2 separate regions of the Homo sapiens genome follow, and region 2 is linked to region 1. Evidence: fine-mapped expression QTL. A gene starts in region 1. The other region holds a variant in brackets. All regions are shown on one strand. Distances are from middle to middle.

Region 1 (2,918 bases):
GTTCTAAGCAGTCACCGGTGGGAGATGGTCATGGTCCCGTCACAGCATAACTCACTTGAGGCTTGAAAAGTTTCCGTCCAGCTACGGTTTGCAGTGACCTTTCTCTTCTGCAAAGCCCACGGTTACCTGGTGGCCACCACCAACATAGCCCCGCCTCGCTGTCCTGCGTTTCTCTCAATCAGATCAGTCCTGCCGAGTCCCCATGCCTTACTGCTGGTGTGCTGTGTCCTCTGTGCCATTTCAAGGCGAGGGCTCATGAAACTTTTACTCACACGCTGCTATTTTTGATATGCGGTGGCCTTAGCTGTGGAGCGAGAGGCCGATAATTGTGATCACTCCGGAAATCCTGGGAAGCCAGAAGTGGGAGATGGGTGTTGTGAGGTGGCGTGGCTAGGGAGACCCCATCGAGTGGGTGTGTTATAAGACCTGGGCGAATCCCTGTGGCTGCCACTCTCCTGAGAATGTTCCCTAGGCCTTAGTCCCGCGCCGCTCCCACCCACACCTCCAGGTGTGCAGTCCCCGCCCTTAATTACTCTCACTAAAATTGATAGTTTACACTTGCAAAGCTACACTGGGAAAGCGGAAGAGAAATTTATAATCGTGGATATGGAGAACTAGGGGAGCAGACACACTTGCTTTCGTTTACAGATCCAGTGAAGTGAAAAATCAGAACTAGAAACGTATGCACCTTCCTAGCAGCAAAGCCGCTTCTGCGTTCTTCGCAGCCTCCAGTGCAGGGCGGCGCTGGGAGAAACTTTGCGCCTTCTGGAAAGTTTAGAAAGTGAGCCACGAAAGAGAGGCCACATTTCCGGGGTTTTGCGGGCCCCGCGATGTTTTCCAGAGCTTTTCGAGTGGGAAGAGGAGAGCGACAACGTGAAAATGCCCCGTGCCGGGGCGTCCACCGGAGTCCTGCCAGCTGTCCGGCGCTGGGGTAAGCGCAGGAGGGGCGGGGGTGGGACCCGAGCTGGCGGCCACGGGTCTCCCGCTGCGGGTGTGTCGACTCGGGGGCGGGGCGGGGGAGGCTGCTGAGATAATGAATGGGAGGCTAAGGCCACCCCCCAGCCCCGGCCCTGCCACCACCGTGGGCTGTCGAGCCAATGAATGGAGGAGGGGGCGCAGAGGTCAGGGGCGCTGGGGGCGCCACACCAGGTAAGGGGTCCAGCTTGGGAGCGGGGAGGGCGGACTCTGGGGGTTCGGGTGTTGCTGACTTGTGCTACGTGGAACAAGCAGAAAAGAAGGAAGGCGGAGGAAGAGAGGAGGCTGGCGTCGGCGCTGCTCCTCTGGCCCTCCCTCTGCGCCCCCTCCTCCTGCCAGCGCGCCAAAGCCGGGCAGTAGGGGCCGACTGGCGGCTGACGCTCCCTGAGTGGCGACTCCGTCTCCAGCCCCGCTGCGGAGCGCGGGCCGGATCTGGGGCGGCCAGGGCCCGGAGCCGCGGAGCCCTCCCCGCCGCCCGGCCGAGCACGGGACCCCGGCGGGGTGGGCGCAGGGGGCGGCCCCGCTCTGGGCGACTGCCGAGGGGCGGGCGGAGGGCCGGGCTCGGCTGGCGGTGGGGCGGGGGCCGCCGGGACTGGGCGCGCGGCCTGAAGCCAGCCCGGGGGCGGCAGGAGAGGGACGCGCGGCGGCAGCGAGCGCAGGTAAGGGGGCCGGCGCGGCGTGTGGGGACGGCGCCCCCTGGGCGCGAAGCCAGAGGCCGCGGCGACTGCTCGGCCCGCCACACGGCGCGCTGGGCTCACACTGTCCCGCCGCGGACGGGCTTTGTGGTTGGGGGCGCGCGTGCGAGTGCCAGTGAGAGTGTGGGTGCGCGCTGTGGGCCGCGGCGCGGGTGGGTGGCCGTGCGTTCTTGCGAGCCGGCCTGCAGGAGGCGAGGCTCCCCTGGCCTCCCGCACCCAGCGGCGGACCGAGCCCCTGGAGGGAAGTTGCCGCAGCCGCCCGGGCCGCCGGCCCTCCTGTCCCGCGCCAGGTCAGTGCGCCCCGGGGCCCGCCCAGTGACACGTAGGTGGCCTCCGGTTACCTGGGTCGGGGTGGGTGCGCGGGAGGGCTTGCGAGGGGCCCTCGAAATTCTCCCAAAACCTCGTCCCGCTGGACTTGCACCTCCGAGGGGTCCCTGCGCCCCTGGGGCTCCGCACCTCTCGCTTCCCACTGACGACTCGGTTGTCCCCCACCACCGGGCTGAGGACTTTTAACTAAGTTTCTGTCCAGCCGCCTAACAAACGTGCTTAACAAGTAACAGGAGGTTGTAAGGCAAGGGAGGGACCTGGCTTTGAAAGTTGATGGTTTTGAAATCGACGGCTCCTTTGACTTGCGTAGGACTCCTTTGTGGTGAATGGATTTAAAGTTTATTCTTGTTTTTCTTTGCTGCCATTTGGTCTTTGCAATGTTAAGAGTGAAGGCATTCAGGACTTGCTGCTGCCTGCTGTCTGGGGCCTGAGGTTGTGGCTCTCCGCTTCTGCTCTCCTCTCTTCATTTTTGTTGAAATCCGTGGATTTTTTCATAAATGTGGGTGCTGGCTTGTTTCACTATGGACGCGTCGTTTCCTATGGGGTTAGATAGATATTGGTAAACATAAATATTGAAAATGTGATGATCACATATTGATGATCACAGCGAAATCCTCTATTCCTTCAGGCTCTAACAGTTTGTTTTTCACGTATTTGCATAAGTGTGTTTGCTCAGCTAAGCATAATTGGTAAGCCAGAGGTCTGTGATTCAGAGTCTGCAGTTCTGGTTAAGGGGAGACTGTACACTTGGAAAATGCGAAGTTTTTTAAGAAGTTATTCCCTTGCCGGATAGAAGAGTGGGTCCCAAGGAAAAAGGGTGTATTTTAGAGGTATGGTTATTTGAACCAAACTAAACATCATTAAAATACACAGGGAGGTAGAATGTCACCTAGTTCTTTCTGCCCTTGATTTCCATATCCC
Region 2 (2,918 bases), 110 kb before region 1:
TATATGACATATGATATATAATGATATATATGTGATATATATCATGGATATATATTTATAATTATATAAATTATGTAAATATTTAAATATAAATTTATATATTTGTAAAAATTTATGTTTATAGATTTTTATATAATTATAAATATATTATAAATATATGTAAATATTTAATATAATGCATAATATGATTATATAAAAATATGATATAATACATATTGACATATAGATATATATCACATATATCATATATCAATGTCATATATCATATATTGACATATATATCATATATACTGACTTATATATCAATATATATCATATATATAAAACCTTGAAAACCATAGCATCTTCAGTATTTTTGAAGGCCTATTTTTTATTATTTAAATATTTATGATCTAATATTAATAATGTATTTTTTTTTCTTTTATTTTGAGACAAGGTCTCACTCTGTTGCCCAGGCTGGAGTATAGTGGTGTGATCACAGCTCACTGGAGCCTTGACCTTCTGGACTCAAGTGAACCTCCCATTTCAGCCTCCTGAGTAGCTGGAACTACAGGCATGCATCACCACACCCAGCTAACTTTTGTATTTTTTGCAGAGATGGGGTTTTGCCATGTTGACCAGGCTGGTCTTGAACTCCTAGACTCAAAGGATCTTCTCATCTTGGCCTCCCAAAGTGCTGGGATTACAGGTGTGAGCTACTGTGACTGACTGTATGTAATAATATTTTAAGATAGGTACTACTTATTATTTTTCCCTATGTGTAAGTATTTTAAATGTTAAAAAAATTTTAGGATAAGAACTATATTTTGTTTTGCTAATAAGCAGAAAAACAGAGACTTAGAGAAGCAGAGCTAGGATTCGAATCAAGTATATATGACTCCAAAGCCCAGACTCCTATTCATTAGAGCACAGTACTTTAATAAGTTCACATCTGTGAGTCCTTTTCAGAGTCATTAAACTCTGTTTAGCTCTCAGCATTTTGTATATTTTGGCTTGTTTTCTTTTAAATACCATATGGCTTTTTAAGAATGGAGATATAATCTTACAACTAATCACTATCCTAAGAAAATTAATAAATTTTGCTGAGCTGATAGTAAGAGTAACTGATAGTAAAAGTGACAGTAATTGGAAACATTTGTAAGATATTTCACATTTCGCAAACTGTTTTTCACATGTCCACATTTGC[A/C]ACATATTGTGAAACAAAAATATAGTTTACGAAACAACATGTATTGCTGATGCTAATAAGTTTTCCAAAATTCATACAATGGTGAGGTTATAGGTAATTTTTAATTTTTATAATTTTTCTTTATTTAAAAACTGTAGACTTACGTATCCTTTTAATAATAATTACATTTAATCTTTTATAAATTTTTACGGCATCCTAAAGAGATTGAAGGTAAACACCAGACTTAACATTTTTAAAAAGTTAAATATATTTTTATGTATAGAACTTCTGTGATTTTATCAGGAACACATTAGATGCCTGTAGTTGAATGGCCAAAATTTATGACATTCATTTCTCATAGCAATCTGAAGTAGATACGATAGTTATTTTTTTTTTTTTTACGAATGAAGAAACTACAATTTAGAGATGTTTGAATGATTTTTCCCAAACTCAGACAATTAATAATTTATGAAGCCAGAACTAGAAGAAACATTTTCTAAATATGAACAAGCAGCTGTAGACTCTTAACCCCATTATTATTCCATATTGAGGGCCAAACATAACCAAATAAAGCAGCTACGGTCCCCTGCAACCAGGAAAATGAGGAGAAAATGCCCTGGAGAAAATGAAGTCAGAACTTGGAAAATCAAGTGGTGATGGGATCCCCGTAGGTTGCTATCTGCTGATGGGTGTGCCCTTTCACAGTGGAGCCAGGGGTGTCAGGACACCCTGAAAATCCAGGGGTGTGGTACTCATGGAAAGAACAACTCTAGCTGGCCTCTGGCCTCCCATGCCGCAGGGCCAATTCTTGCTGGGTGTGCTCCAAATTACCCCAAAAGGTGACAGCAACAACTGTGCTAGTGTGTCAGCCTTGGAGCCAGGCTTTCTCCTGACTCACATAAACATGGCCCAAATGTGCAGCTCTAGAGCCAAGCCTCTGTTCCCTACTCAAAAATTCTGGATAAACTAGTTAGTTCTTTCAAATCCAGTTGCTTAAAATGACTTACCTTGCTTTACATATGTTCATTTCTCTCCTGCGTCTAGGTAACAGCTCTCCTATGAAGCAGTCATTCTAGAGCACTTGTTAAAAACTCCTGTTCTAGAGTGGCACTAGGGGGAGTCAGGCTGGTTCCTGAGCTTGCTCAGGTTCTGCTGTGATGTGTTGGACAACCAGATGGGCCTAGGTCTCATCTTCACTAATATCCAGAGAACTTTGCAATTGGAAAATAAATCCAAATACCCCAAGTGATGTAGGTTGAGATGTACCAGTGTGGGATCCGGGATGTGAACTAGGGAAGTATTAAATTCTAAGTCAGTGCTGGTAGTGGATATGGAGAGGTTAAGCTTCCTTGTGAAATACTAGATTCTGGGGATGAGAAGGGGAGCAGATAGAACCCAGGAAATTTTGGTTGAAATATTAAGATGGTCACAAGACAGAGTTGGAATTACAAAACAAGAGAGGCAGAAGGAAGTGAAAAACTGAGTGGTATTTAGCAAGTAAATGGTATTTAGTGTCTTGTTAAGTGTGCAGAAAAATGTGAGTATGCTTGTAGTGTTTGTTTGTTTAATTTTTTGCTTTGATTTTAGGCCGTTTAGCATCCATTCCAGTTTCTTTTGGTAATAGCATCTGAATTTCCATTTGGAAATGATCTTTCTCCATCGTATACAGTCTAATGGGCAAGGAAGGCCAGTTGGAAATTATCTGTCTGAAATTTAGATTATGAGCAGAATGATGAAAGTCTGTTAATTATTG

The links. PIP is the estimated chance that this variant, and not a neighbour inherited with it, causes the effect.
Region 2: its variant is fine-mapped to the expression of LPAR1 in whole blood (TOPMed, PIP 0.99).

The regions. Positions count from the first base shown.
Region 1 is chr9:111,036,883-111,039,800 of GRCh38, reverse strand. It overlaps LPAR1 (lysophosphatidic acid receptor 1), which reads left to right and starts at 1,331. Exons shown (of 6, transcript NM_001351411.2): 1 at 1,331-1,634. It overlaps LOC124902248 (a long non-coding RNA gene), which reads right to left and starts at 2,873. Exons shown (of 2, transcript XR_007061732.1): 1 at 2,012-2,873; 2 at 1-346. RefSeq lists a silencer at 1,562-1,901.
Region 2 is chr9:111,148,549-111,151,466 of GRCh38, reverse strand. No RefSeq gene overlaps it. Among named protein-coding and RNA genes, the nearest start is that of LPAR1, 110 kb to the right of the region's middle. The variant A/C (reference allele first, on the strand shown) is at 1,187.